Linked DNA regions of Homo sapiens. The protein of the gene in region 1 interacts with the protein of each later gene in a pairwise test. Each region holds a gene or a part of one and is shown on either strand. Other genes may lie near its edges.

Region 1 (8,220 bases):
CAAAAAAAAAAAAAAAAGAAAACTAAGATTAAGTTACTACAATGACAGAATAGAAAGTGTCACCTACATGTAATATAGGTCAGAAGGAGAGCAACAGAAGAATACACACATGTGCACACACACACATACATACATGGACATGTGTGCAACTTGTGCATACACACACAAACACACACACATGTGCGTGCAATATACCACAATATACCATCATCCTTTCTATTTATGTGGAGACTAGTTCAATCGATTTTTCTGTCACCTAAGAATTTACCTACCCCAGGAGCCTGCCTTCCACACATACATTAATAACACCAACCAGTAATGTCAAAAGGAAAAATTACAAACCCAGAAAATTAAAGTCATTCTGCACTTGCCCTTGGTTTAACAGGCATTTCACTCTTGGCACCTTTCCTGTCCTATCATTAATAAGCATCTTATTGATACAGTTTATACTCCAAATTCTCCAGGCTTGTGAAAGTTTCCTCAGGATTGCTTGAAAATGAAAGTCCTGGCCAGGTGCGCAGTGGCTCATGCCTGTAATCCCAGCACTTTGAGAGGCCGAGGCGGGTGGATCACCCGAGGTCAGGAGTTCAAGACCAGCGTAGCCAACATGGTGAAACCCTGTCTCTACTAAAAGTACAAAAATTAGCCAGGTGTGGTCGCAGGCGCCTGTAGTCCTAGCTACTCAGGAGGCTGAGGCAGGAGAATTGCTTAAATTCGGAGGCAGAGGTTGCAGTGAGCTGAGATCGCGCCACTGCACTCCAGCCTGGGCGACAGAATGAGGCTGTCTCAAAAAAAAAAAAAAAAAAAGAAAGAAAAAAAGAAAAGAAAAGAAAAGTCCTGAGGAGAAAACTCCCACTATCTCTGTGCATGTGATCACACATATTAGTATACTATATGTGGAATGATTCCAAGTGCATTTTAAATTTATAGTACCATTTTAAATTCAAGCTGGTAATATGTACTGCCTGGCAGAACTCCTAAAGATATATCAGCTCCTTTGACATCCAGGAAGACATTTTCCTTCCAGAATTCTTCAATCTCTTTTAAATCAGTACAGTTCTATTTTTCAAATATCTACATGTGTCTACTCCATGAAGTACTGTGTCATCGTGACTATAAAAATAGTGAAACTTCTCTCTCACTTTCCAGCAGCCTGGGGCATCGCCAAGAGCCTGAAAGGACCCCTTACAGTCAAATCCACAAGGTCATTTAGACACTGGCCACCGGAGATTGCACCTAAGACTTTTCCTTTTCAAAACAGGACTCTTTTCATGATGCAATTGTTTTTCCCTTACTAACCAACCTTACTGAATTTGGTTGAAGGAAACCAGAGAGTAGCCAGCTTCCAATTAATCTGCAAGCTGGAGGGGGAATCAGTTTGCCTTTCTCATAGCATTCACCCTGAAGGATAACTCCTAATTACCAACAGGATTCCCTAACAGAGTCTAGTTTATCTCATGCCCTAGCTAGGAGAAGAGAGAAGTGGCCATTTCTGAGCCCTGGCTGGATAAGGTTTCCCCTGCTCCCATTATCTCCCCAACCCCACTATCTCCCCAACACCAGAAACTGTTCGAGGTGGAGGAGGTGAACTGCATCTGCGTGGACTGGAAGAAGGGCTCCCAAGCCACCTACACACAGGCTGCCAACAACGTGCGAGTGGTGGGCGCCCAGGTGGCCCAGATGCTCGACATCCTCTTGGTGAGTCAGCTGGCTGGCCTATGTGAGGAGGGAAGCAGTGCCTGCTGGTCTCTGTTTGGTAGAGATGCAGCTGAGAGTTATGGATTAAAGAAGGACAAAGAATTGATATCCAGACCTTACTTCTAAAACTCTGAAATTTGCCTTCATAATGACACGCCAGTGGAAGCAAAAATAAGAATCGCTAACACTTAGAAAGTGGTTTTTTAAAAATCATCTTCAATTTACAGATAAAGAAACTGAGGCCCAGAAAGTTTAACTAGTTTGCTCCCAAAGTCATAAAGCAAATGAATAGAAGACCTGCCTTTTGATCCAGACCATCTAGCTTCAGAATTCACCCACAACACCAGGTGGGCTCTGTTTCGCGTGAAACACAGCATGGCCAGAGAGAGCCACAGAGAGCCAACGGACAGTACGTGCAATTGGCATGTACCAGCTCTACTGGCCTGGTGGTATGGGTCCTATTGATGTTGGGGAATTCCTTCTGCCACAATCATTTCACTTATTTCTTCCTATACTGTTTCATTATAGCTAACTCCTTCAGTCTTTAATTCTTTAAGTTGCTAATCCTTTGTGACTATTTTCTATACCAGGTAATGACTACAGCCATTTCTGTCTTATAGTTAAAGGGTCTACAAAAGAATCAACTTCTGCACTCCTGCAGAAATCAAAACCCATGGTATTTGTGCAAGAAGTATGATAGACCAATAAATGAAGTGCCTTTGGGTGAACGTCTCTGAGATCAACATGTGCAAATACCTCATAGCTCTATTTGATTTGCTTGTTCACCAGTACTTTTGGAGCAGAATGTCAGGAGTATGTGAGGAAGTAAAGAAGACACATGAGATCCCAGACCATCAAGGAGCTTGCAGTGAAAACTTGCAATGCCAGTAGAGTGCGATCTATTAGTGGGTTCTGATGGGGAGAGTAGGAGCTTTACAGGAACACATAGAAGGCAGCTAATCCACACTGATGGGGTGGGGAAAGGGCTTAAGGAGGTCTCCCAAGGAAGAGACGTCTAAATTGACAGCTGAAGGCTAGTCTGTTGATGTTAGCTGGCAAGTGCTTGGGGGATAGACAACAACAAGAAGAGAAGAACAAACCAGGCCCAGAGGTGAGAGGCTATGATGTATTCGAGGGTCTGAAAGTTCAACAAAGGGTTTGGCTGAAGAGTCTAGAAAAATAGATGATGAGTTAGGAAAGCTCGGAGGCCTTCAGAATGAGTTTGGGCTTGATCCTGAAGGCAATGAGAGGCATGGAAGGTTTTCAGCAGAGGAGTAATATCCATTAGGCTGGCATTTTAGAAAAACCACAGCAAAAAATGTCCTGAAAATACAATCTTCCCTCTCCAGACAGAGTATAGCTACCCCCCTTCCAAAGTTCACCTCATTGGCCACAGCCTGGGAGCCCACGTGGCTGGAGAGGCAGGAAGCAAGACTCCAGGCCTGAGCAGGATTACAGGTAAGGCCCCAGAGGCAGGGCCCCAGTTTTGTCCCCAGAAACCCCAGAATGAGGTCTCAAGAATGCAGCCCAGTTCAGAGCTCCCCTGAAGGAGACTGTCCCCCTTGGCTGTGATAGAGCTGCTTGGAGCCTGCACAGAACATTTTAGGGAGCCCCCAAGAAGCTCATGCGCCACCTTCACGGCAAGGGAAGGGTGATTTTGTTCCTCTTTGCTTCTTCCACCTCTGTCCTAGCCCCTCCTTTCTAAGTCCTGGTTTTCTGGTGGTGTTCGCCTCTCAACAGGACTGGGCACCCAGGAAAATGCAGAGTGAGACTAGTATGAACATGAGCAAAACATAATCAAGGAGGGTCTATATTGCCAATTCTTTCTCCCTTCTCTTTGAAATCAAGGGCAGAATAGAACCTAAAAATTGTTTCCCACTGCTTCTACTAGTAGAAGAAACCCAGTCGCCATTATGGCCAAAAGCATTCTTTTAACCCAATCAAAGCATTTGAATTATAACAGCAACAGCAAGATATATCTACATAATATGATGGTGATAATAATAATAATAATGCTATTATAATTATTATGATAAGCATAGATTAAGTGCCTGCTTATCCCAAATACTGCACAAAATGCTTTATATTTTCTTATATAATTCTCAGAACTGAAGAAAAAGGCTCAGGGATGCAAATAACTTGCCCAAAGCCACACAACTCATCAGTGGGAGAACTGAGATCCAGACCTGGTTTTGCCGATGTTTGGCTTAAGCAACTCTTTATAAGAAATCTCTCTTTTATTTTCAGCTGGCAACTACATTCACGTTCCTATTTTATCAGCTGCTGTAATGAAGCCTTCAAAAACTATTAACAAATCCAAGATCCCTACTAAGAAGGAAATTTGTCAAAAACAATAATTATTAATATCTTACTTATACACCCATGACTATACACCAGGCATTGTGCTAAGTGCTACCTATTAACTCATTTAATCTATAACAACCATATCAAATAGATGCCATTATCACCCCATTTTGTAAAATGAAGAACCTGAAGCACAAAAAGGTAGAGTGACATGCTCAAGGTCATGCATCTTGCCCCAAAAGCAGCTGAGTAGGAATTTGGAGCCAGGCAACCTAGACCCAGAACCTGTGTTCTTAACTATGATACCACATTGCTTCACCCCTTTCTTTCTACAAGCTTGGGGAGAGAAAGGATGATGAAGAAGAAAGATACACAAGTAAATGGGAGACTCTGGTGTGGAAAAAATCCTTGCTTAAACAAAATCTAAATTTCTTTGCTCATTTGTCCTCCTCCATCCACGCCACTGGGAACCCTTTTGCAATGAGCCACATTCAGACTCTATGTCCTCATATTTAGCACCCAAGGCCATGGCACTGCATCACTCTGGTGCATGGTACCCATTGAGTTGGGCAGTGCATAGCCCGGGCAGCTGTACACCTTGGTGCTGCTGACATCTACAGTCAGGTCTATTGTTCTGCAGTGCTGATCATCTCTTTTAGGGTTGGATCCTGTAGAAGCAAGTTTCGAGAGTACTCCTGAAGAGGTGCGACTTGATCCCTCTGATGCTGACTTTGTTGATGTGATTCACACGGATGCAGCTCCCCTGATCCCATTCTTGGGTGAGACCTATGATGCTCCAGCTGTGAGCACGCACAACTGTGTTTTAACCATGAAAGTCCTGCATGACAAAAAGCTCATTGTTTTTCTAAGCATTTCAGGTTTTGGAACGAACCAACAGATGGGTCATCTTGACTTCTTCCCCAATGGAGGAGAGAGCATGCCGGGATGCAAGAAGAATGCCCTGTCTCAGATCGTGGATCTAGATGGCATCTGGGCGGGTAAAGTCATGGTGGGGTGAGGGGAGCAGGGCGGGTACTTTCCTGGAGTGACCAATACCTTTCTGCAGCAAATCTTAAGAATAAAAATGAAACTGTCTTTAAAAATATACAATTCCCTCTTCTGGGGATTATTTCAGAAAAAATGTAGCTACATAGTATTTGTTATATCTCAGCTTTACTGCTTTTGTGCTTCCTTAAAACATTGCTGTGGATGTCCTGGCATGTACAAGCAACAAAGAATTATAAAACTGTCACTTAAAGCTGTGACTCCAGCAATCAGTTGGTAGTTACCTAATACAGAAAGGAAATACCATAAGAGCAAACATCCTGACTGTAACTAAGAGACTTTTGCTACAAATTCTCTCTTGGGAGTCAGTGATAAGGTTCAAAATGATGTAATCAGCTCCCTTTCAGTAGCTAGAATGAGAATATTCCCAGTGGTTTCCACAGCAAGCCTATTTGCACAATGAGAGCCATTGCTCACCCATGTTGAGTAGGAATGAGGAGCAATCACAGTTAAGGAAGGTGAGATGGGAGACTGCTATTGGATGTGGTTATTCTTTATTGTTGATCTAGCACACTTGGGAAGAAAGGGCATCCTGCAGACACAGCTCTGACTCTGTATCTAATGAGGCCAAAAGGACAATGGACAGGTGAAGTTTTCATCCAGACTTGTCATGTGGCACCACACGGAGAAAACCCTTAGTAGTCTGACCAAATGTAATGAGTAAAGATTTTTACTGAATTTCATCAAAATGGCTTGGCATATATGGATGCCATCAAAGCAAATATTAAGAATGAGGACAGGCCAGCTGTGGTGGCTCACGCCTATAATCCCAGCACTTTGGGAGGCCGAGGCGGGCAAATCACTTGAGGTCAGGAGTTTGAGACCAGCTTGGCCAACATGGTAAAACCCCGTCTCTACTAAAAATACAAAAAGTAGCCAGTCGTGGTGGTGCGTGGCTGCAATTCCAGCTGCTCGAGAGGCTGAGTCAGGAGAATCGCTTGAACCCAGGAGGCAAAGGTTGCAGTGAGCCGAGACCATGCCATTGCACCACAGCCTGGGCAACAAGAGCGAAACTCCATCTCGAAAATAAAATAAAATAAAATAAAATAAAATAAAATAAAATAAAAAATAAAGAATGAGGACATATGCAGTTTGTCTTTCACAGCCTCATGAGGGTTTGCGTGCATAGGGCAGTCAAAACTCTTCATCAGTAATGGCCCAGCAAGCTCAGGCCAGGTCTAGAAGGTATAATGTAACATTTGTCACTTGGCAGGAGTTGCAGGGAGCCCAGAAAGGTTGCAAGTAAAATCAAGACACTATGAGAGTGAAGCTCATACAAAACCACCTAAAGTTATCCAGCCCTTGTTTTTATTTGTATAACTGCCGCATGGAAATGTCCTCGCATTGGCTTGGTCATGTCACATCTGGTCATGTCTTTGAGGACCTCCAGCATGGTGCCTGGGACATGAGATGGCACTAAGGTTAGAGGGATGGGCCGAAGACAAGATGGGCATGGGTTTAATTACCAGCTTTCCCACCTATTAGCTAAGCTGTAAATCTGAGGCTACACTCTGTAGTCCTTTCTGTAACATAGGAATGAGATGATAATGCATAAATAAGGATGATATGGTACCCACCTCCTAGGAAGACTGAGGATTACATGGACAAGGCAGGTAAAGTGATCAGAATGTTGCCTTGTACACAGAAAGCACCCTCTATATGTTAATTGTCATTATGGTGGCTGAATTTTGGATTTATCTTAAGTTTCTGAAAATACGGTCCTACTTTGGAACCATCCCATTTGGAGAGAGAGGCAGAGAAGCTGTTACAGGCCCCCAACCACCTGTTCAGGTCTCCTTATTTGTTTTCCCAGGAACCCGGGACTTTGTGGCTTGCAATCACCTAAGAAGCTACAAGTATTACTTGGAAAGCATCCTCAATCCCGATGGGTTTGCTGCATATCCCTGCACTTCCTACAAGTCCTTTGAGTCTGTAAGCTATTGTCCTGCCTCGAGCAACAAGCATCACCCCTCTGAGGGACTGCTGTCCTGCTGCGTTTGGGATTTGCAATGCCTTCTCACTACACGTTTTGCATTGACCCTCAGAGTTCATGGTCCTGTGGAGTGGAAGAGAAAAAAAAGTAAACAACTTTTGGCAGGAGATGGCTAAAATTTTAGATGACATGAGTTATGTGGCAGAGGAAAACTGGGAAATCAGAGAGAAAGAGCAGTCAATTCAATGATATAGAGGCTTCCTGCAGGAGGCAACCTCTGAATCTAGCTTAAAAATGATACAGTTTAGAAAACACAGGAATGCACATTTCTGGCAAGGGCAGAGCGAGAGTAGAAGAATGTATAGAGAATAATTCACACCAGAGAGAAAGCAAGGTGGATGCTGGAGTCCTATATGCCAGGCTGGCAACAAGGGGAGAGATGAAGAATGACAGGTTAGAGCCTGCCTATTCTGGCTCACGAAAGCCAGCATGAGTATCCCTTCCCAACTCCAAATTCAGAGACATCATGTTGGTAGCCTGAAACTGGCCACAGTCAGAGTATTTACACCACTGAAAATGGTAAGCACTGCAATCCAGGGTTTTTGTCCCAGAGCTTTTGCTGCTTATCATTCACCAGCTCCACTCAACAGAAGGTATAATTGATCTAACCTGGGTCCTGGGCATCAGTATTTTTTAAAGCTCCTCAAATAATTCTAATGTGTTGTGCCTAAAAGTTGGGAACCCTGATCCAGATGAAGGTAATTTAGAGATCATCTGCTCCAACCCCTTTGTTGTCACAAAGGAGAACGCTTAGGCTGTAGGAAAATTGAGTGTCTGCCCTCTCAGATGTATCGATCATACAAACACAAATTCTCCTTACAGTCCCATCTATCTCTTCTCATTAGGACAAGTGCTTCCCGTGTCCAGATCAAGGATGCCCACAGATGGGTCACTATGCTGATAAATTTGCTGGCAGGACAAGTGAAGAGCAGCAGAAATTCTTCTTGAACACAGGAGAGGCTAGCAATTTCGCTCGTAAGTTGCACTTTGACTACCTGCCCATGTAAAGAAAGTATATAGTTTCTGTTACAAATGAGGGGCTTGCTTTCAACCTGAAATATTTGTGGGTACATTTTAATTATCTTAGAAATGGACACATTTACCGAAACTATTGCAGTTACAAGTAAACTGAGGATTTAGACAGAGTGTGCATTTCTTCC
Region 2 (8,220 bases), on another chromosome or scaffold:
ACTAGCAACCGGTCGAATATGCTCTGAGTTTTCAAAGGCTACACGTTACTTCAACACATATTTGGAATTGGCTTCACTCCACCCTAGATTAATGGACACCCATAAATTTGGCATAAATATGACTCTGAAATGCTCGGGATGACATATTCAAAGGCCTCAGTTCTCCATAACAGAGTTTAGGAAAGCAGTTTTATTAGAACTGCTAACCACAAAATATTAGTGTTAGTGAAGTTTCGTGCACCGAATGCCATAGTTTCCTGTTTCCATTCAAGTAGTCACACATCAATGCCTGCCCACTGGTAACAATACTGGGCGACATGGCTGGCACCTGGCCCTGAACCAGTGACCAACTGGGCATACGTGACTGCTAAGATTCCCAATGTGAGATAGTGCTTCTCAGCCTCCCTTGCAGCTCTATGTGGCCCCCAGTGGACTCTTGCCAATGGAATGTCTGTGTGTCTTCTGGTCTGTCCTGAACAGACCTGAGCACTCTCCTCTACGCTCTCTTTTCCCTTCTGGAAGAGCTGGGTCATGCTCGTGCCTACAGCCAGCTCTGACCAGGCAGATGAGGACAATGTCCTGGGGGAAGATGGAGCAAGACAGAAGATGTCTAGGTCCACAGAGGCCTGTGGCAAAGCTGGCCAGCCAACGCGGACTGCTCACTTCAGGACTGGAAACATCTCTTCTTTAAAGCCACACTCCATTGTGGCAGTTGGAGGGGGTCTCTTTATCATAGCAGTTTCAACCTTCAGTCTTAATGAAGAATCACACACAAAATCCAAGTCCCCATTGTCCATCCTGAGACCTAAAGAATTACATGGAGATCTGACAACAAAGATAAAAAAGATATGACTGTTTGGCTTTTTTTTCCTAGGTTATCTGAGCTTTCAATGAGGGCTGGGCGAGAGACCTGAGATGGCACAGGGTGGAGCTGTCACCTCCAGTTCCGGATGTCTGTGTCAGAGACATGAGGGTGATGGGGCCACTGTCGCCAGGGCTTGAGCAGCACAAGTCAAATGTCGGCGAAAGACTATTGTGCTCACATTCTGACACTTCAGTCATTCTGAAAACCTTCAAAAATAGTTTCACCTATTTCTCTTCCCTCTACATTATTAATCTAATAGGAAGGTATTTAAAGGTGAAGTGAGGTCACCACGGCACTGCAGAGAAAAATCTTTTCTGAACACAAAATTCCAAAGTTGGCCATCAAACAGAATCTGGGGAAAGAGGGATCATTTAATGAGTCTGACAAGAATCCTGAATGATACACAATTTGGAATTAGGGTGATGATTTTCTTTTCCTCAGTCTTTCTTGTCATACAATAGTCTTTCCATTTCAGGGGAATAAACCTTCACACAAACTTGATACATACAAAATACCCTCAGCTACTTCACTGCAAAAACACAAAACAATTAACAAAATATCCTCAAATAATGTTTTCTTAAAAGCACATGCCATCCTAGCCAGTTATATCCCCCATACAATCTATGTCATTAAATGTCAACTAAGAAAAATGGTCAGAAGCAGCAACTCACTTGTTCAAACAGAGACGGCCTGATGTGTTCCCAAAATCCTCCTCCGTGAGCTGCCAGTTTTTAACCGATCCTTTCACAAATCCTGACACCATTATGAAGCCCAGGACCAGGACGTTAATACAAGTGAATATTTTGTTGACCATGGCCGACTCTTTCACACCAAGAGTTAAAAGTCCTGAAAAAGTGCATAGACACAAAACTTTGTCTGAGTGTTAACCACAAACTGGGAAGGTCCTTCCTGGATGGGGATAAGAAGGCGACTGAAAAAGAATCCAAGTGCATCGAGCCTCTGCAGACCTCTGTGAGCCTCTGGGAATGGGGTGGATTAATTATCTTTCTGGGGGCGGGGATCAGGGGTTTAAATCACCAAGGTTGTGGGTGCTTCCCAGGCCCTCCTAGGTGACCTCCAGATACCCTTGGGAACTGAGAAGCCCACCCAAGGGGCACCCGAGAACTGCAGAGATCTGGAGCATGAGCCCCTCTCATAGGGAGGGGAAAGCCTGGACCCGCACACCAAGCCGCTCCCTCTCACTAAAAGGATGCGTTGCTGGGAAACAACCTCTAGGAACAATTCCAGGAAGAAAGACTTTGCATAGTTTCCTGGGAGAATGGACATTTTTCAGAAGAGGAAATTATTCTGGTTGACTTTGGGATGTTAGTGATATTAACAATAACAACTAGCTATGGTTCTGGAACCACTAACACACATGGTTCTTCGTTGGACTCAGTGCATATAAAATAACATCTGAGCTAGGCTAGCTCTAGCTTGCAAACTCACGTTTTTTTTTTAAAGAAAACTATAAGTAATAAAGATGCCCAGGAACCTCTGACAGCACTGCCTTTGAGGCACATGCCCCAGCACCACCTTAGGGTGAAGAGGTCATTCGGGTACTTCCATAGCTGAACTCTCTGCTGGGCAAGAAAAGTGGCACAGAAGGGGTTGGTACCACTCGAACACAGCCAGGATTTGAGACCACTGCTCTGCCATGGACGCCTCTCATCGTTTTAAAATAAAAATTGGCTAGGTGCGGTCGCTCACGCCTGTAATCCCAATACTTTGGGAAGCAGGCAGATCTTTTGAGGTCAGGAGTTCCAGACCAGCCTGGCCAATATGGCAAAACCTTACCTCTACTAAAAATATAAAAGATTAACTGGGTGTGGTGGTGCGTGTCTGTAATCGCAGCTACTGGGGAGGCTGAGGTGTGAGAATCGCTTGAACCCAGGAGGCAGAGGTTGCAGTGAGCCAAGATCGCGCAACTGCACTCCAGCCTGGGTGACAGAACAAGACTCTGTCTCAAATATAAAATAAAATAAAATAAAATAAAAACTGCTGTACTTTTGAGATTGAATTATAAAGTACAGATGTTAGAAGAGAATTGTGTAATTAATCACAGGGAGAACACCTCAACAAACAACAATATATTGTTTCTTTAGTGTCCCTCCCTCTCAGGTTTATTAAAATGAAATCTCACTAGTGCAGACTTACTTTCTGATGCATGTTTCTGCCAGCTGGACCAGAAATACTGCTGAGACCAGCCTGAGTGAAGTTATTTCAATTATGTGGTGTGTAAAATAAGGCATGTCATTTTTAAAACTCATCCAAGATTTTCTAACCCCAAATGAGAATTTATCTGCATTTCAGCTTCATGTTTATGGAGCCCCACAGAGCAAAACTCGCGCTGCACTGGCCAAGACACGCACAAATGTCACTAGCAAGAAGTTGCCATCAGCTGTGTTCAGGCAGTCTCTGGGATTTTTCAAATTCTGTAACCACAACTCTGTCATGAAACTTATTTACTGAAAGGGTGTTTTGATGGTTGTTAGGTGTAAAAACCATCCAAGTCATCTTCAGACGCCCCAGGCACACATTAGTGTTCCAGACGGAGCTCATTCCTCCACATTTTCCTGGCTGATGAATGACAGTTTTGCTTTCCAAATGGTCATCCACTGAGTCAAAAGAACTTTTATTCCCAGGACACTCACACAAAAAGCCTGCAGTGCAGACAAAATCTTATTCCACAAACAGCTAGGCTAAACACCTAAGATTCTCTTTTAATGAAATGGCACACAATTCAACAGCTATGAAGCAGGCCGGCCCTATCTGAATCTATAAGAAGCAATGAAGACAGGAACAAATAAAGATGCCTGCATGCAGTACAAAAACAAAACAAAAAGAAATGGGGGTTATGGTTAAAGAGATAAGTAAAGAAAGGAACTTAACAGGAGCCTCTCACCAAACCTTTGCCCATCACTCTGACCCGATCTCTTTTTAAGTGTGGGCTTTACCTGTCAAGATGAGAATTATGATCACTGCGAATATGTCGGGGTTTTCAGCCAGCACGCCGGGGGCGTTCAGAGTCATGTGTGTCCGTGAGAACTCCCCGATGGGTCTGCCTATCAGCTCGTCGAAGGTGGCGCTCCAGGCCCTCGCTACGCTTGAAGTACCTGCCACAAAGCACACACAACAGAGGAGATGTGAGGACAACTGTTAGCCAGGTATTTGTAGTGGAGCTCCATGTTGATAACATCATTGCAGGAGTCACCGACGGTGCACTGGAATCTGGCAGCAGCAGCCAGACCACAGTGTATGCTGAGCCAGAAGTGACGGTCGACTAGTGCTAAGTGCGAGAAGGCTTCTAGGGCCTACAGAGGAATGCACTTCACATCCTACCCAATATACACAGGTGTATTCTATCAAATATATATATCCGAATAAAAAGTTCGCAAAACGAGTGTTACCCTTACCACCTGAGAGGCACTCTGATAATATTTAATGCTACCTACTTTGTTTCATTAAAAAAAGTAAACATTGATGACAACTCATGAAAAATTGATTTCATAATGCACTCCTGGGGTGCAGCTGGCAGTCTGGAGGAATGCTGCTTAGGAAGCCTCTTTTCTAGGAACCCCTTGGCTGCAGAGATGATGGTGCCTGCACCATAATTCTTCTCTCAGCAAGAAGAGGGGCCCTAGGAAGTCCTTGAAGGGGCTGAACTCCATCTCAGGGACAAAGCCACTTGCTCATCTCAGTGTTGGCATCAGCCACCTCTGCCACTTTTTGCCTGAACCTGATTCGGAGGCCACAGCATCCCCAGAGTGCAGGACAGCAGACAGACCCCAGCCCTCCTCGTTCTCCCCTCAGCCTGCACCCTCCGGTGCCGAAGAACACCAACAGGGCAGCACTCAAAATGCCAACAATAGTTGGCTGCTGTCTTTCACTCTCATTCTCTCCTCTCACATAATTCTAAAGGGTGTCAGAATGTGTTTCCATTGGTGTTTCTCAGGAAATGTCACTAAAATTCCAGCATTTTCATAGAGCGTTTTCCTTTATTTTCAAAGCGGGCCTTGTCGGTGACCATGGTCCTAATTATCCACAGCATATTGCCACAGTGATCTGCAGAGATTCAATTTCACTATTTGGTCTTATGATAAGTAAGTATCTTTCCAACAACTCAGAAGTTTAACCACATTTCTTCCTCCTAAGCAGCCAATCTATTATGAATTCTGTAAAAATGGTCTCACCATCTCCCTGTCACCCCCAAAGCAGCTGGCTTATGGCAAACGTGGCTCCCAAACCCTGTCCTGCTCAGTGACAGGGGCTACCCCAGCCTTTCTTCCCAGCCTATCCACTCCCAATTTCTGAATTATGCCTTTTAAAAAAATGTTTGCTGGAAAAACTGCCCTTCCCAGCAGCTAAGGCTGAGAACACATTTTTATAATGCATGCAAATGGTTTCACACAAGCAAACGGCACTCTCGCAGAGCCTTACATTTGTTGGTCTAGAAGCTGCAAGCATTTCATGCTCAATGTATATTTTATGCTCAGGTAAATCCTCTGGAAACATAACGGTCCATTTACAATAGCTACATTCCCAGTGAGAGACTTCAGCTTGTGAGAACCATGTGTGGTTGTTAAGTTTTGATGTGGCATTGAAAGAAAACATTGTGAATTTTATTTTAGAACCCAGAAGACTAAGCTATGTTGGCTCTCAGCAGATACTGCAGCTGCTGGAAAGAAAGAGAAGGTGCTGCTCGGAGAATGTGAGTGTGTGCCCTCCCCCAGCTGTCCTGGTGAAGGGGGAGTGATGCCCCCCATGCAGAGATAGGGCTGTGGGGAGCCCAGGGCTGCGAGGATCCCAGCAGGCAGCATGTGTGGCCAGGGAGGGTGTGGTGGGGTCCAGTGGGAGCTGACACAGAAGCAAGGCGGAACCCACATGGCTCAACTTAACAGGTCTTACTGTTTTTTCGCTATTACCAAAAAGTTTGAGAAAAAAAAAAATAAATGGCATGTTGAGTGGCCGTTTGTACCCTTTGCTTCTGAGACTTAGGTTTTTGTTTCTTTTAAGTTGATGTGTTCAACTTCAGTTGTAATCAAAATACAAAAAAGCATAAAGAGAAGCAAAGCGTGTTTACCTGGCAAACCGGAAAGATTTTCTACATTTGCTTCCTTATTTGCTGGGTGGATGTGTTACAGGCCGATGCCCAGTGCCCACACTGCAGGGAAAGGGGCCCCTGGCTACGTGGAGGATCACAGTCAACAAAGGCCTTAAAAACACGCAGACCCACTGACAGCCATTCTGCTCCTTAGACAGTTTTAAGGAAAAGAATCATGGCTAAGCCCAAAGACATAAAGTAATTAACTGTTAATAACAACAGCAACAACATAATGGAAACAATCTGAACATCCCATAAAGACACCAATACATTACGCTGTGTATATAAATCTATACAATGGTAGGCAAGCATTAGAAATGTTACTGTGGAAAAATAGCTAATGATATGAGAAATGTTTACTATATATTGTTTTATAAAGAGATACACTGTAGAAAAATACACATTTAAATTCACAAAAATGTTAACCATAGTTGTATCTGTAGACAGTAAACTTCTGAACACAGAGTGTCTTATGCCTTCATGGGATCCCTAGTATCTAGCACAATGCCCAGCCCAGAGCAGGTACTCAATGAACATTTATTAAAAGAATGAATGAATGAATGAGAGAATTAGTTTCTCCATGTTGTCAGGCAGGGTATTTCTACTTTCTTCTTCATGCTTTTCTTTATTTTCCCAATTTTTCTCTATCAGTGATGCATTTACTCTAGTAATTTAAAAACCTACTAAAAGAAACTAAATACCTCTAAATGAATCAGAAACATCCTATTAATTCTGTGCCTCTCGTGTTAACAAGAATGACCTCCCTGTGGGGCATCCACCCACACTTTGGAGGTGGGAACAAACAGAAAAGTGGTAGAGGGCACGAGCTCCGGACCCCTGGGACCTACCGATGATGTAGGAGAGGATTAAGTTCCAGCCGGTGATGAAGGCCCAGAGCTCTCCAACGGTGACATAGCTGTAGAGGTAAGCTGAGCCCGTCTTGGGGACCCGAGCACCAAACTCGCCATAGCACAGGCCAGCCAGCACTGAGGCCAGCGCAGCGATCAGGAAGGAGATGACAATGGCAGGGCCTGCATTCTCACGGGCCACAGCTCCAGCCAGGACGTAGACACCAGCACCCAGTGTGCTGCCCACCCCGAGGGCCACCAGATCAAAAGTGTTCAGGCAGCGAGACAGCCGCGTCTCCTCCCGGCTACAGTCCACCACCTTCCGCCGCAGCATCTGCTGCCCAATGTTGAGCAGGACTTTGCACCCCATGTTGCTGTTCAGAGCTGTTGAAAAAGAACAAAGATGTTTCCTGATTGCTCCTCATTTCACCCATTACTCTAATCTTATCACATTATGGAAACACAGACAGTGATCAGGTCCTTCATAATCATTTCCTGCTAAAACGCTTTAATTCGTAGAATTCCACCATCAATTGTCAGAAGCACGCAGACTTCTCCAGTTTCACCAGCACATACAGAATTAACCCAGCAGGCCAACAGATACAGATGACTTCATTTCGAGGTCTCTGAGCTTCCACATTTGTAGCAGGTCCTCTTAATGGAGACTCTTCCATGGGTGGAAATTATGCAGTAGAGGAAACACACATTAATGACATTGTTCCTACACTCAGTCATCAGATAATACACCAGGAAAAACAAGGTGTTAGTTCAAGTATGCTGTAATAGAAAGCAAACCAAACCATATCTTAATTTCATTACTAAATTAAATTATTAAATTATTAAAACTCAGAGGCCCTGAATGGCAATAACAATGTTTTTCTAGATCTTTCTAGGATCCCCTGAGGGTAAGGAGCAAGTTGTTTTCACTTTTAAGGTAACACAGAGGTAGGTCGAAGCAGAAAAATGTTGAGTTATTACAAGTGAGGGCTTTTCGTCACTGTTACTACTACAGGAAGCACTTTTCTTCTGGGCTGAAATGTCAGCCCAATGTGCTCTGTGGTATATGATATATATGCATATCTGATATGCTCTTGGGCACTTATCATGAGAGGACATGTATTCATCCATCCCACCCTCACATGGGACATGCCCCATTAGGGCCCAGGACACCTTGTGCCTTGTGGGATGGCTCTGAGATTGCTTTCCTCCAACCTACGGGCCCACCTTGCCCGACCAGATGCGACAGGTGAGCCCTTGGCAAGGACAGGCCAGCAGCCACCCTCAAAAAGGGGGAGCTTTGCTCCCCACATCTGAAGGGAAGAGACTTCCTTCCATAGAGTCCAGGATGGAAGGGTGGGGGTGGGAAAACAGATAAACTCTTCAGTGGAGAAACCCGAGGACCA
Region 3 (8,220 bases), on another chromosome or scaffold:
AGAGTTACAGATGCAGCTGGCCCCCTGGGGGGCTTCTATCCGCCTCTCAGAGCCCTTGGTCCCACCCTGTTATCTCTTCAGTGACAATCTTAGCTAGAGTTTCAGTTTGAGGGGTTTTACAAAACTTAACCCGTAGTATTTTTCAAGTACTACCCTCCCTAGTCCCCCAAGCCCCCACATTGTCCACTCCTGTTCAGAATATTGTTGATAGTGCAAGCCCTCTGGAAGGATAACACAGAAAATCCATTGTCTGATTATACCATGTTTCATAACATTTTATCATTTCCTAGCACATTTCCCAAAATGAGGGGTTACAGAGCAGATCAGGGAAAGGAAAATCTAGGCACACAGAGACCATTCTATTTAACAGGGGTGCCCAGGGAAGAGCAGGAAAGCACTGCAGACCTGGAAGAAAGTGTGGGCTAGTGCTGTACGGCAGCTGGACCCTCTGGCCTTCATAGCTATGGGTAAAATGGCATAAAATGCCAACTTCATAAGATTGCATTAGATATTATATTCACCAGTACTTTGAAAACTGTGCTGGTGTTACCAGTAGTACTAACATGATTATTCCTATAAAGTACTAAGAGGGGGACAGAAAAAGGACCATAGAGTGGCACTAAATGAAAGCCTGCCCTTCTTCATAGCTTCACTGGAGGCTTGCTCTGACCTGAGCTAGCTGCATCTGAATATTAGCAGAGGAAGTTATGTCAGGCTCAGAGATCTATGGACCCTGTTAGAAACTCTGTAATTCCTTTCTTTTTTTTTTTTTTTTTTTGAGTTAGGGTCTAGCTCTGTCACCCAGGCTGAAGTGCAGAGGCACAATCATGGCTCACTGCAGCCTTGACCACCCAAGCTCAAGCCATCCTCCCACTTTAGCCTCCCAAGTAGCTGGGACCACAGGTGCACACCACCATGCCTGGCTAACTTATTCTCTCTTTTTTTTAATAGAAATAGGGCTCTCACTATGTTGCCCAGGCTGCCCGGGTTGGTCTCAGACTCCTAGAATCAAGCTATCCTCCTGCCTTGGCTTCCCAAAGTGCAGGGGTTACAGGTGTGAGCCACTGTGCCCAGCCCAATTCCCTTATTTCTGAATCACAATTTCTACCTATCCAGGTGACATTTTCCTTAATTTCTCCATGTAAATATAGGATCTGAGGTAGTAAGAGATGTGTGTGTGTGCATGCCTGCATGTGTGTGTGCATGATGAGTTGCCAGTGTTACCTGCAACAGATGAAAATGAAGATCCAATGCCTTGAAGGGTTCGGGCCACAAAGAGTAGAGTATAGGTCCCAGAAAAAGCAAACACTGGGCAGAGAGAATAGCAAGATAACTGCAGTTAGCAAATTGCCTTTGCTTCCCCAGCCGCCAGAGAACATGCCCGTGATACTGCAGATATGAGTCTTGATGCATATGTTTTTAATAAAGCATGATGACTGTTCCCTGTTTTTTGAGTTGTCTTTTCAATCTCCCACTCCTCAGTTTTGCTATTTAAATGGCAAGAAAACTGAGAAACCACAGAAGTATAAACCGAGTCACCACACAGCAGATGGAAGGCTGAGTCTGTACATCTCTTGCCAAGAACCCAACATTCTGTCCACTGAAATGAGGGATGTCCATGAAGCTCAGTGTCCTAGGCTGGAAACTGGTTCTTAGATCATACTCCTGGATCGTCCATGTGCAAAATCCAGATCTGGTCTTTACCATTGCTGGGTCCCACAGGATCATCTGGAGTACAGTGACAGTAAGTAGGTGCTTCGAGGATTATAGGAATTGGGTAGAAAATAATATCTTGTGATACAATCAGATCCTTTTTTATATCTTATATTGAACGATCTTTTAACCAGACAAAATCAGCAGGTATTAAATTATACTGAATGCGCAGCTCTGCTAGACTCTGTAGCAAATGCAAAATAAAAATAACATCTAGTTATTGTCCGTGAAGAGAGGCAGTGTGTTGAAGATGGACACCCAGGAAACTGAGATCCAACAGGAATATGTCATCCAAAACAATAAGAGAAATATGGCTCTGTCCTGCCAGGCTCCCAGACAGTCAGACCTAATGGTTATCTCCCCTTGCTCCCTGAACATCTCCATTATCCTATTCTTTTTTCAAGGTTCTGAGATCTCATATTGTTCAAACACACACGCTTTATGAACAATTTGTGCAGTTAACGCAATCCTCACAGGGTCCTGAGTCGACATACATCCTCAGTTTACGAAGACCATGGGATTAAGAGATTAAAGTAAAGACAGGCATAGGAAATTATAAGAGTATTGATAATTGGGGAAGTGATAAATGTCCATGAAATCTTCACAATTTTATGTTCAGAGATTGCAGTAAAGACAAGTGTGAGAAATTATAAAAGTATTAATTTGGGGAACTAATAAATGTCCATGAAATCTTCATGATTTATGTTCTTCTGTCATGGCTTCAGCAGGTCCTTCCATTCAGGGTCCCTGACTTCCCGCAACACAAAACTAAATCAGAGGGTGCTGGTGGTCAGGGTAGTTAAGTCCAGACATGTCTCACCTCCAATTCCAGAAAAATGTCTCCTAGGGTAAGAATAATCTCCTCGAAGTGTCTGAATCAGAAGAATTGTAATCCCTTTGCCCATTCATTACAGATGTCTTTGGTTGTGTTTTTAATCTTCTCCCATTACTTCCCGGCAGACATGATCACACCGAACTTCTCCTTGTCTCCCAAAGATGCACATTCTTGGTCTCTTCTTTCCTGGCCACCAGCATCTTTTCTCAGACTTTGTTATTTCCAGTCTTTTCTGTCTACTCTCCCAATGTCCTTTGAGAATAGAGTGACCCACTCATCTTGGTCTGCCCAGAACTTCCTTGTTTTTAAAACTGAAACTCAAAATACCCCACAAAAACAGGAAGTCTTACATCCTGGGAAGCCCCTCACTACAGTGTGGACATGGGTTGTTTGTCCCCACCAAATCTCATGTTGAAATTTGATCCCCGGTGTTGGAGATGGGGCCCAGTGGAAGGTGTTTGGGTTATGGGGAAGGATCCCTCATGAATACTTTAATGTCTTCCTTTGGTGGTGAGTGAGTTCTCACTCTACAGTTCTCTCAAGAGCTGCTGGTTAAAAAAAGGCTGGCACCTCCCTCTCCTCTCTCTTTCTTCCTCTCTCATCTCTGCACAGCCAGCTCCCCTTCACCTTCCACCATGAGTGGAAGCTCCCTGAGGCCCGCACCAGAAGCAGATGCTGGTGTCATGCTTCTTGTAGAGCCTGCAGAACCATGAGCCAACAAACCTCTTTCTAATATAAATGACCCAGCCTCAGGTACTCCTTTATAGCAATGCTAAATGGACTAAGACACCCCTCAATTCTAGGCAAACCAGGAGAGTTGGTCATTCTATTTAGGAATACCAAAGCAATTATTTTTTTCACTTTGGACCCTTTACATGGGCCACCATTTCACTCTTGATTACATTAGGCATGGCTCCTAGTTGGGGGGTGGAGGGTTTAAGGGTAGTAACGGGCATCAACAATCTCTTTTAAGTATTTTTTAGAACATTGGACAAGGATACCCTAAACATCAAATGTATTTTCTTTTGGTTAGAATTAGGCCAACTCCATATAGCAACACAGCTATCCTATGGAAATAATAATTATTTAACATATATAGTTTGGTATAAGTTAAACAATAATTACTTAACATATACAGTTTACTTTAAAAGTAAAGCTTTTAACACATGAATTCTTGGCAGAGAATCAGGCAAGGATATCATGCTAAAACGTCTCAGATCCACTAGCACACCGCATTGTCTTACTTCTCAGTGTGTGTCTCATGTCTCCCCAGGCAACCATCATATACACTTCTGATAGCTGGAATCATGTCTTTTCATTCTTTATGTGACTATGGCCATCTGGGCATTATACATGCACTGCATAAAGTTGTTTGGAATAAATCTTAAGCCTCATTTGATGAAATAGGGCACCTGGCATCTTATTATTTTTAAATTTGCTGTCTAACTTAGGCTGAACTGCTAGAAGTTCCATGAACAGTGCTAATTTGAATTTCTTCATTTTCTTCAAGTCCACTAAAATTTCACAAACAAGACGTAGTTCTCAGAGACAACCTCACATCTCAAGTTCTTGCAGTTTGCAGCCTTCCAGCCCAGAATGCAACAAATTCTTGTTAAATATTGGGTTGCTAGGAATCAAGTTCTGTGCTGGGAAAGAAGAAAAGTTGAGGAAGAGGAAGACAGAAAGTAGACAAGGAACAGAAAGGTAATAAGAAAAATGAGAGGCATGTTCTCACTCATAGGTGGGAATTGAACAGAGAACACATGGACACCGGAAGGGGAACTTCACACACCGGGGCCTGTCATGGAGTCGGGGGAGAGGGGAGGGATAGCATTAGGAGATATACCTAATGTAAATGATGAGTTAATGGGTGCAGTACTCCAACATGGCACATGTATACATACGTAACAAACCTGCACGTTGTGCACGTGTACCCTAGAACTTAAAGTATAATTAAAAAGAAAAGAAAAGAAAAGAAAAACGCGAGGGAGAAGGAGGTGTGTTGTTGGAGAGCAGAGGTTCAGCAGGGCCATCGGGAACCAAGGCTGGATCCACAGGCTGCCTTCCCCTGCCTTAACCTGCTAACGCTAACCCTTTTCATTCCTTCTTCCTTTACTTCTCAGCATCAATTTCCAGACTTACTTTTCTCATGTACTGTGTTTATCCCATCTCCATTTTATTAGAAACATTTAGCTGATCCTGGATAGAGTATTTGTCTTTCTCTTTCTTGTTTCTTTAGCAAATTTACTTTTCTAAGCTTAACCTTTAAAGCCCTTAACTGAAAAGCAGTAGGCTTTTTGGAATTTTCCAGATGTTATTGTCCAATTTCCATTTTTTTGTGAGTTGCCCTTTTCCATGGCATAACAAAATAATATCATTGCTTCTCATAGATGGAAAGTTTGTATTAAACTTGCTCAAGGGATTACTGATGCATATAACACACACACACACACACACACACACACACCCCGTAGCATACATATTCAAACAGCTCTCATTATGTCCAGCTGAAGTGAAGTGAATAAAATATCTGTTCTTCTATAGCAGAATAGACCAATTCCAACTAGACTGAATTGTCACTACTGTTCTAGTCCACATACCAAAAACAGCAGAGCATTTAAACCAATATTCCAGTCTGCTTAGTCAGATGCCTAATTACATTCTAGGTTACCCTGCTATCTACACCGCATTCACTTGATAAAATCAAAGGTAATCAGTGAAGGGAAGAAAAGAGGAAGCAAATTACTTACTAACTGTGGAGAGAAACATGATAACAAAGCCAGCAAACATGGGGATATGATATCCAATCCTAAAAGGGAATTGAAAAAAAAAAAGATACAATTCCAACAGGCACTCACATACATGGACTACATTTTTAAATGTAAGTGGGAGCAGAAATGCAGCTATTTGGGTGTATGGTAAAACATGCCTCTGAATGTAGTGTGGAGATGAAATAGGGCATGTGGATGAGTATGAGCAAACAAACAAACATGCAGATATGACCATAGATCAGGGCCAAAATTCTCATTTCCAGAAATGATAGCCTAGGTGGAGTGTATATCTCTTGAAAATATCAGAATAATCGTCAATACAACTCCTGGGAAGCCAGTGCTCTAGATTACAACAGGACTGTCCCATTCATACCCTTTTCCCATTCAAGCCATGCTCCAGGTCACTGATAGAACATCACAGCACACTGCTGTTCATGGTTCTCTTCTTGGTACTCAATACTCAATATATCACTAAGAAAATCTGATCCCATAACATTTCATCAGTAACATGTTATTCTTTGAGTAACGAGCTTTCCGAATAGCTGACTCCCCTGAGGAATCATACAAGTGAGTATTTCTTCTTTTTCCCTTCCAACCCCCTTTCTATACTTTTCTAGTCCTCCTACTCCTGTGTACCCTGCGGGGCACTGCACCCAGTGAGATACCTGTTGGTGAGAGGGCCCACGAATGGGTTGACCAGAAGTTGCATCACAGCCTTTGAAGCAAACAGAACCCCGACCCGGGTAATCTCTTCCTCCAAGAAACCTGTGCCTTGCAAGCAGTTGTTTTTATGAGCTGAGATGGCTTCAGTGGCTGGAGGTGGGATGGTGCTGGCAGTGTCATTCATCCATGCTATTCCACTAGGTACGCTTTCTTCAACAGCCACGGTGTTGTTGTTGAAGAAGGAGAAGATGGTGGAAAAGGCAGGAGAGGCGAGGGCATGTGGGGAACTTCCGGCATGGCCGAGGTGCAGAGAAGAGTTGACTTCTTTGAACTCCATGTCATATAGGAAGGTGGGCACAATTGGCACTGAAAGTCAAAGAGGACAGGTGATGGGGGCTAAGGACCGATGTCATCTTACCACTGAAACTCAAGGGGCTAAGGACAGATGTCAATTCTACTGAAAGTCAAGGAGGACAGGTGATGGGGGCTAAGGACAGATGTCATCTTACCACTACTAGGATCAGGGGACTATGATGAGGTTCAGCCTTATGCCCAAGGCTGGTATCTGGAGTGGCATGGTTAAAACCTACTAAAAGACTGTGCCTGCCCAAGTTATCCTATTAGCTAAAGTAGCTAAATTCTGACCTTATACAGTTAGTCCTCATTGTTCATGGTTTCCACATTGGCTAACTCTCCTACTCACTTAGATTGACATGTAACCCCCCAAACCAACACACACTGAGCTACCACGACATTTCACAGACATGTCCAGCTCTCACACAGACCTGGCCACAGGAGGGGATGGGAGGAGGAAGGGCAGGGTGGTCAGAGGAGCCTCAGCTCTGGGACCCCTGGACAGGGTTTGAATCCCAACTCTGGCACCTGCTAGTGGAGAGGCCTTGGGCAAGTCACTTAACACTTCTGAACTTCTTTTTCTCTTTTATAAAGAAAACACGATGTACCACGATGTTTAAGATTTAAGATTATAATTGTGTGTGTGTGTGTGTGTGTGTGTGTGTGTGTGTTTCCCTGGGAGCAATGATTCAGTATTCACTAATTCAGTGTTTGCAGCGACTTTATAGAGCATAACTATAACTACAGAACTATGAATAATGAGAAGTGATTGTATTGGATTAACAACTTGTCTCAGAAAGATCCTTTTTTAAAAACATATGTTTTACCCAAGAGGAGAAACCTTTTAGTGCCCATTTATACAAGGGTGTAACTTAATGTAATGATTAGGAGAGTATCAACTAAAAAAAGCAGGATTCTGAGGGAAAGAACCACAAGGAAGGCAAGGTCTTGATACTAAATCAGATATCCAAATAAAATATGCTGTTTTTATAGAGCAGAGTCCAGAAAGGCACCCCTGTGAGAAGATCTCGCTGCCTCAGAGGCACTTGGAGTCATTAGCACCTTGAGAAGACAGTGTGGGGAGAAAGAAAAGCACAGCCAGTTCTGGCTCCGGGCCATCCTCTTCTCCAGTCAGACCCTCTCTGGACCTCCTGCTCTTTGAACCTCCTGAGTCTTTTAGCTGTGTTTGACAAGTGTCAGACTCCATTTTCTGCAGGGCTTTTTTCCAGTCCCCAACAACCTCTGTGTGTTTTTGAGCATAAAAAGGAAAATTCTCAGATGGATTCACTGTTGAACTCAAGCAGGGTGTACACTGCCTGCTGGGGCCCACAGCAAATTAACCCTCAGCACAAAGACCCACAAACGTACCCACCACAGTAAACAGCATGTTGTCCAGGAGCAAAGCGACGAATACCACCACCAGCACCAGCTGCCGGGACGCTCTCCCCTCCTTCAGCAACCGCTGGGGAGCATCCAGAATGGTCCGGAGCATGGTGATGGCCGGACTGGGGCAGTCTTCCCCTGCGGGCTCTTAGGGAAGGTCCTGTGACAGCTACAGGTCTCCTGCAGCCTTTATGGAAGAGGGGAGGGAGTCTGCCCAGACGAAGGAAACTCACTATTAAAACGAAAAGTGCAAAGGGTTGCAAGTAGTAGGATGATATTTGGAAACATCTCCATGTCTGTATCACTGTTCACTTCTTATAAATCTCAATAACTCTACCTGGTTCCCAGAATGCCTTCCTGGTAAGCATCGCTTACTAGCTATTTATGTCTGGATTTATATCTAGCCATTAATTTCCCTTGAATTTAATGGCTAGGTATAAATCCAGATAAAAATAGATGCTCTACAGATCACTTAACCCTGTGTTTTTCAAACATCCGACA
Region 4 (6,862 bases), on another chromosome or scaffold:
GGCAGGGCTGAGGGGAGGAGCCTGCAGGAATGCTAAGGACTTGGAGGAGCGGGCTCTGGGCTCTGTGGCAGCTAAGATGCCAAAGAAAACAAGGGCTAAAGAAACCCCGCTATTGTTCCTGCCCAGCTCTGGCATTTCCTGCTGGAGCAGCTCCTCCCCCAGGTCTCTCCTCTTAAGGCCGGAGGTCAGTCTGTCCTTTCTTCCATGGGTCCCAGCGCTTTGTCCCCAGCCAATCATGCCAGCTGTACATGCCAGTTGTACGCAGGATTTTCTTCTGGGCCTGGGACTTGGGCTGGACAATGACCCTGATGACCCCAGAGGCCATTGGGGGCCAGGCTCCTTTGCTGCTGAACTTGCCTCCAGTTCGCACCCTTTCACTTGCTTTCTCATCCTCTCTCCCCAGGCACTGTCTTCATAGTCCACAGGTCTCAAACTCCAGCATCTCAGAATGAAAGGATTCACAAGTGCTCACAAGAGGCTTGGCTGCCAGGGGAAGCTCCGACCTGAAGATTTGAACTAATGAGGGACTATAAAGGCCAAGACCTTGTTCTTGCCATTTTAGAGATTCAGAATATAATCTACAAAGTTAGAGATTATAATTGGCCTCCACTGTGTGATTTGATTCCAAGCTACCCATGAAGAAACCCAGACTCAGAGGTCACTTGCCTAGGGTCACACAGTGACCTGAGATGGGAACCACAGGTCGCCACATAGACTTGGTCATCAGGAGTGGGCCTGGTGAGGCCAAAGAAGGAGATTTCATCTGTCAAGGTTACTCACACAGGGCAGCTGATTCTGTTTCCTAGGGCCTGTGTCTTAGGCTCTTCCATCTCTCTAACCACTAGAGTCCCTCTGTCCTCAAGTCATCACAGTAAACTCCCATTATGTCTCGGAATTCTCTTTGCCCAAGCACTCAGGCCCTGCCCTGGCAGCTCCAGAGGAATGCCCGGGACCTTTGTGAGCTGAGTGATGGGTCTCCCCATTTGTGGCAGGGGGAATTTGAATGTCTTAGGGAGAGCCCTTCCCCTCCTCTCCTGATATGGGGACTTCTGAGTTCCCTGGGAGAAGTTGAGGGCTGGGGTAGAAGTGGTAGGGAGCTCCGCCTGTCTTCTGGTACCTTGGGCTGTATTTCTATTACCACTGCCAAGTTGTGGAAGAAACAGTACTTATTGGCAAATGAGCATTTATTGAGTGCTTATTATATGCAGAGCAGTTGAAGGAAGGTAGATAGGAGAACGCCATCCAAGAACTGGAAGCAGCCCTTGTCCCCAAAGGGCTTACAGTCTAGCTGGGAGGCATTGTATATATACAACATCACAGCTTAAAGATACAAAACGACATTGAAGCACCATTTGCAGGTGCAAAGTCATTTGGCACAAAGTGGGAGTATGGGACAGCTCAGAACCTTCTCTGTCCCCAGCTTAGGGACCTGGAGGTCTGTCTACCTGTCTCCATGCTGCCCTGCCTCTGTCTGGTTTGGTGTGTGTGATCTCTGTTCTCTGACTGACCGGGTGCTCTTAAAGGGCAGAAACCAGCCCCACATTCTTTGTCCTCTCTACCCTGCTGCCCTCGCCAAGGCTCTCCGTCCACTGCAAGACAGTGGGTTGGGCTGGAAAGGCCCAGCCATGTGTTCTGGCTTCTGCCAGGGCCTCCCAGGAGCCTAGGATTTGTCTCAGTGGAAAAATCATGGGATTTTGTGTAAAAAGGTCTGAGTTCAAGTGTTGGCTCCACCATATACTACCTGTGAGACTTTAGACCAGTCCCTTAGCCTTGGTTTCTGAATCTGTAAAATGGGAAGAACAATATTTGCTCTACCTTTGTCACGGGGTTGGGAGATAATCACAGGGGACGATAAGGGGAAGCTTTGGAAATAGCAAAACCCTTCATGGCTGGGGGCCTTTGTCCTTCCCTAACCTATCTGAAGTTTGAGGAAGATCAGATAAGTCCGTGCATGCAAGGCACCCAGCACAGCAGCTGGTACACAAGAGATGCCAGGAACTGCCAATTTCCCTCCACCCCTGGAGTTCCATCACTTGGAATCCTTTTTTGACCTCTGACTCCAATCTGGGCAATAGAGGCTAGAAATGGTAGGGATTTCACATTTAGTTTTTGGGGAGATGCAATCCAAAAAGTGAAACAGACATAGAGAGAAATTCTTGGCTTCTTCTAGAGGAGTTTGTTGGGGTGAGGTGGGGTGGGGATGAGGTGCCTGAGACACATCCATGCTGGGCTCATAGCTCACTGCCTTGCTGCCTTTGAACCTCTAGAGCAAGGACACTCAGGTGCCAGGAGGACAGCTCTGGAGGTCACTTTGGTTTCTGACTCCACCCTTCTTCTGGTAGTGAGGCCAAGTGGCTGTCACTAGCTATTGGGGGTTTGGGAGAGTCCTCTCCATAGCACATATGGCCCAGGGCAGCCTTTTTTGGACCTCAAAGAGAGCTTTGGTCAAGGAAGACAGGAAAGAGCATAGATGAGAGGGGACACAATTACAGAGATGTTCCTTATACACTGTCTTTCTTGGATGGGAGCAGAAGGGAGAAAGAGGCTAGAGACTTAGTGCCTGGTGCACAGTGGGTGCTTGGTGCAGTGTGAGATAGATACAGACAGAAGTCTTGAAGGCATGGAGGCCACAGAGAGCATGGGGGCGGAGGGGGGTTCAAGGTATGACCCACATGTTACTTATACAGCAGGCTGGAGAGGGAAGGAGAGAATGGATAGGGCTGGGTGGTAGGAGGAAGGAGGTGGGAGAAAAGATAGGGCACACATTCAGGGTAAGAAGAGGTTAAGAGGCTGGGCCAGGATGGGGCCAGCCCCAAACCCATCTCCTTCTGCCTGGATCTTGTGGGCTCCCAGGACTCTCCTTTGCTTTGGCCATCAACGAAAGGAGGTAAGGGATGTTGAGCATCAGACTCCTTCTGCATCCTTCCCCCAGGAAGCAGAAATAATGAAATGATTCTAGTAATGCGTGATAATGGTATTAAGAATTACAGTTTACACAGCATCTTTACATGCGTCATCTCACTTAATCCCAGTTAATCTCTTTTGAGAGCAGTAGTACTGGCCTAGAAATTTAGAAGCCTGGGTTCTAGACTCAGATCTGCCTCTGCCTGGAGAAGTCATTTCCCTTCTCTGGTCCTGAGAGCAGCAGGCTGCTCTATCCACAATGACTGTCCAGTGGTAGGAGCCAGAAGCAGGGGATCACGGGCTGTGGAGAGGCAGACAGAGAAGGAACAGAGATTCCTGGGGTGGAAAAGCTGCTGCCTGAGGACTGGGGAGAGTGAGATGGGTGATGGATGGGTATTGCCTGGTGCCCATGGTTGCATGCCTGAGCGCCTTGCCCAGCCAGCCATAGGTGTGTGCTGGGCAAGAGGGCTCACTTGTGAAACTGAGTGTCTCCTTTCAAGAAGTGTCTAGGTGCAAATCTCCCCTCACCCAAGACAAAGGCCCGGGTCCCACAAAGGGCTTTTGTTTTCTGCGCCGAAGTGGGAGGCTAATCTCTGGGTCTGGGGCACCCCTGGAGACGGGGGTCCCGGGCACACACAGCATACACACACGTGAAGGCGTGCGCACTCATATGCCTGCTTCCTCTTTGGAGAGGTTCTCCCTCACCACAGAAAGGAAATCTTTGGCCACCAAAGATTTCCTTTTTCCAGAGGCCATGTCTAGGGGAGCTGTTCTCTGGTTGACACCTCTCTACCTCCAGCAATGAGTCTTGGCAAGCCTTGGGGCCCAGCGCTGCAGGTGGGGGAAATTTTCCAGGAGGAGCCAGATTGCGGCTGGAAATCAAGGCCCTCCCTTCAGCCCTCTCAAAGTGGCCTCCTTCCCTTCCCCTTCTCCTGAGGAGGACTGGCACCCACACTCATCCACTGCAGGAGAAGCGGATTTATTGCAGGTTGGGGAGGAAGGGGTGCAAGGGGAAGTGAGAAGTCCCCAGCCATGCACACTTGCACCAACGTAGGCAAACCTGTTCACACTCAGGGGCATGCACAACTCTGCATGTGAGGACAAAAGAGAACTTGGGGATGAACACACTTGCACACTAGTAAAACCAGTTGCATCATTCCCGGAACCCCCAAGGCAGGGGTCTGTACACTCCCCACTCAGTACCTGGGTGCAGGCTCTCCAGAGTTTCCCTCTTACCACCCACCTGCCTCCCTCCCCAGCTCAGTCCCCTAAGTTCCCAGTTCCCTGAAAAAGGCTGGAGAAGCCACCACTAGCTGCTCACAGCCTCAGGGCAGGGGACCTGCCAGGCTCAGGGCTCCCTCCGGCAGCCTCCTCCCCGCCTGCTCACAGCACTGGCCTGGGCGCGCACGTCCAGGAAGCAGCTACTCTGCGCTGGGGGGCCAACTTCAGACCTGCGGGAGAGGAGGGACGGGGTGGGCCCTTCTGCCTCGGGCCTCACAAGCGTCCGTCGGGGCCGTAGAGGCCGCTGGCGGCCCTCAGGCCTTGGTACCCCGTGGCAGGCTCTGCGGCGAGTGCAGCTCCACCGACTGCCGCCGTCGCACCTCGCGCTCCTCCCAATCGGTGTCCGGCTCCAGGCCCTTCAGCACTGCCAGGCGCTCCGACAGGCTCTTGGCTGGCGGAAACAGCACGTAGTTGTAGAGGAGGGAGCCCAGGATGGCGCCCACCAGGGGTCCGATCCAGAAGACCTGGGGGCGAGCGGAGAGGGCGGCTTGGCACCCGCGCCGGCACCGGCACGCGGAGCCCGCAGGCCCCGGCGGCACACTCTGCGGCCGCACCTCTCCTCCCCGACATTAATCTAGTAAAATGCTTATTTATGTAATTACAACGACAACGCCAGCTGCTGGGGAAGCCTTGTCAGTGCGGGGTTAAGGGTGCGAATTCTGAAGCCACTGCCTGTGTGTGTCCTGATTCCACCACTTAAGTGCTGTGTGCACTTCAACAAGTTACTTACCCTCTCTGTGCCTTTCACTCTAAGAATGTCTACCTCCTGGGGTGGTTGTGAAAACTGAGTTAATGTTTGCAAAGCACTCAGAACAAGGCTCACCACATACTAAGCACCAGATAAGTGCTAAATACTACCACTTATAGAGTTCTAAGTGCCAGACACTGCATTATCTGGGTTACACCGGTAACCTCACTTACTGTTCCCAAGAAGCCAGTGAGGTAAGCTGTTGTCATCCTCATTCACAGACGTGGAAACTGAGTCTTTGGCATCAGATCTGAGGGGTGGAACCCAAGGCTCCCCAGGACCAGGAGGAGTGTGGAGGGTTTGGGGTACCGCTGCTGAGCCCCCATCCCATGCTATTCCAGCTCTTGTTCTCCCTCTAAAATGGGTTTCTAGAGAAGGGGAGGGCAGGGGGTTTCAGCCATTACCCAGTGGTCATCAAATTTGCCAGTGACGACAGCTGGAGCCAGGGAGCGGGCAGGATTCATAGAGCAGCCGGTGTAATGGATCTGCAGTGGGAGGAGGGCATCAAAGAGAGAAGGGAGGTGAGGACAGGGCAGGAAGTCCTTGTCCCGCACTGCAGTGCTTGACCTCAGCCTAAAGGGAACCCACGTGATGGACAATTAACATCACGTTTTATTTACAGATGGGCTGGAGTGATATCTGTCCCTCTGGGGTATCTAGGAGTCAAACCTCTGGGGTGTCTGTTCCTCTTGAGAGTTCTGTGTATGTGTCCCTCTTGGGGTCTCTGTGTCTGTCTCTGGAGTGGTCTGTGTGTCTGTTCCTCCAGGGAGGCTGGAACCCATGGCCATGACCTACCCCAAGGAGGTGGCCCAGGGCCACAGAGAAGCCTATGGAGAGAGCAGGGGTGCCCGGGTTCTCTCCGCGGCGCTCATCGGTGGAGGCGAAGATGCAGAGCACCAGCTGCAGTGTCAGGAAGAGCTCCACAGTCACCGCCTGGCCAGCCGTCGTGCTGTTGCTGAGCTGGGGACAGAGAAGAGGCGGGTAGGGGAACACTGAGCCCACTTTCCTCTCTGGCTCCATCTTCCTGTCCACCTGCAGTCGAGGCACCAGGGGGCCTCTGGGCTGGGAGCCGGAACACCTGGGCTTGCCAGACGCCTTAGCTGCAACGACTGATCCCTTCTTCCTGGGCCCTGGCCCAAAGGCAGCCCCTGATCCCCCAGGATGCCCATGGTCCCCCCGCCAGAGGTAGCAAAACTGACTCTGTAGCCCATTAGATTGGGGCCTGAGGCTGGGAGCCTGCAGTATGAGAGGAAAAGAATGCTGAGATCCGGAATTTCTGTTTCCCAAAGAACAAGAAGGGAAGAGGTTTCAACTGCCTCAGGAAGCTTTGGGCCGGTTAGCAGGAAGACCTTCCTCTGTCTGTAGACCATCAGACCTTGGTGCAATGAGAGGCCTGTGGTCTTTCTTCCTGAGGTTAAATGGCTCCCAGAGACAGGGTCTAGGGACTTGGGTCTGGGGGACAGTCCTAGTGTGCCCCTTTCCGCTATGAGTCCGGAATCTACCTCTTTCCCTAACCCTTGTCTATTCCCCACTGCCTTTCAGGCCTCAGGTTTGCCCTGTTAGTTTGCTCCCTGCACATCCTATGGAGGTTGGGGTAAGGGCCCTGGAGCTGTGTTGGACAATGCCTCCACACCCATGTAGGCTGCCCATGGTCTCAGCAGACCCTGCCTTGGGTAAGGAGAGAACTCGGGGCTGAGTAAAGAGGTGATTTCATAACTGGGCCGCACCCAGCACTGGATTTCTCCTTGGGTTTTGTCACCCTGTACCCTACACCCTGCCTTCTGGGGCTGGGCACTGCACTGGGTGGAACAGTGACAGCTCTCAGCTCCCACGCTCTTTCTCCAGGCCCTGAACCCCCACCCCTGGGTCCGAGACATCAGGTCAGAACCCTTGGGTCTCTCTAGGGTCTAACCTCAATCCCTCCTATTG

Evidence for each region.
Region 2: the proteins of PNLIPRP1 (region 1) and SLC7A1 interact in binary tests that used the Homo sapiens proteins (3 or more experiments, as listed by UniProt).
Region 3: the proteins of PNLIPRP1 (region 1) and SLC18A1 interact in binary tests that used the Homo sapiens proteins (3 or more experiments, as listed by UniProt).
Region 4: the proteins of PNLIPRP1 (region 1) and AQP2 interact in binary tests that used the Homo sapiens proteins (3 or more experiments, as listed by UniProt).

What each region holds. Positions count from the first base shown.
Region 1 is NC_000010.11:116,593,167-116,601,386, forward strand, and holds part of PNLIPRP1 (inactive pancreatic lipase-related protein 1 precursor), read left to right. Parts: intron 1-1,563; coding exon 1,564-1,698; intron 1,699-3,047; coding exon 3,048-3,156; intron 3,157-4,661; coding exon 4,662-4,781; intron 4,782-4,872; coding exon of another isoform or gene 4,873-4,880; coding exon 4,881-5,000; intron 5,001-6,880; coding exon 6,881-6,999; intron 7,000-7,905; coding exon 7,906-8,035; intron 8,036-8,220. UniProt on the Homo sapiens protein: May function as inhibitor of dietary triglyceride digestion. Lacks detectable lipase activity towards triglycerides, diglycerides, phosphatidylcholine, galactolipids or cholesterol esters (in vitro).
Region 2 is NC_000013.11:29,529,002-29,537,221, forward strand, and holds part of SLC7A1 (high affinity cationic amino acid transporter 1), read right to left. Parts: intron 7,202-8,220; 5' UTR 7,188-7,201; coding exon 6,818-7,187; intron 3,982-6,817; coding exon 3,823-3,981; intron 1,712-3,822; coding exon 1,537-1,711; intron 1-1,536. UniProt on the Homo sapiens protein: High-affinity, low capacity permease involved in the transport of the cationic amino acids (arginine, lysine and ornithine) in non-hepatic tissues.
Region 3 is NC_000008.11:20,173,137-20,181,356, forward strand, and holds part of SLC18A1 (chromaffin granule amine transporter), read right to left. Parts: intron 7,952-8,220; 5' UTR 7,829-7,951; coding exon 7,705-7,828; intron 6,349-7,704; coding exon 5,985-6,348; intron 5,358-5,984; coding exon 5,299-5,357; intron 1,309-5,298; coding exon 1,225-1,308; intron 1-1,224.
Region 4 is NC_000012.12:49,953,186-49,960,047, reverse strand, and holds the end of AQP2 (aquaporin-2), read right to left. Parts: intron 5,915-6,862; exon of another isoform or gene 5,894-5,914; coding exon 5,729-5,893; exon of another isoform or gene 5,700-5,728; intron 5,419-5,699; coding exon 5,338-5,418; intron 4,650-5,337; coding exon 4,440-4,649; 3' UTR 1,170-4,439; downstream 1-1,169. UniProt on the Homo sapiens protein: Forms a water-specific channel that provides the plasma membranes of renal collecting duct with high permeability to water, thereby permitting water to move in the direction of an osmotic gradient. Plays an essential role in renal water homeostasis.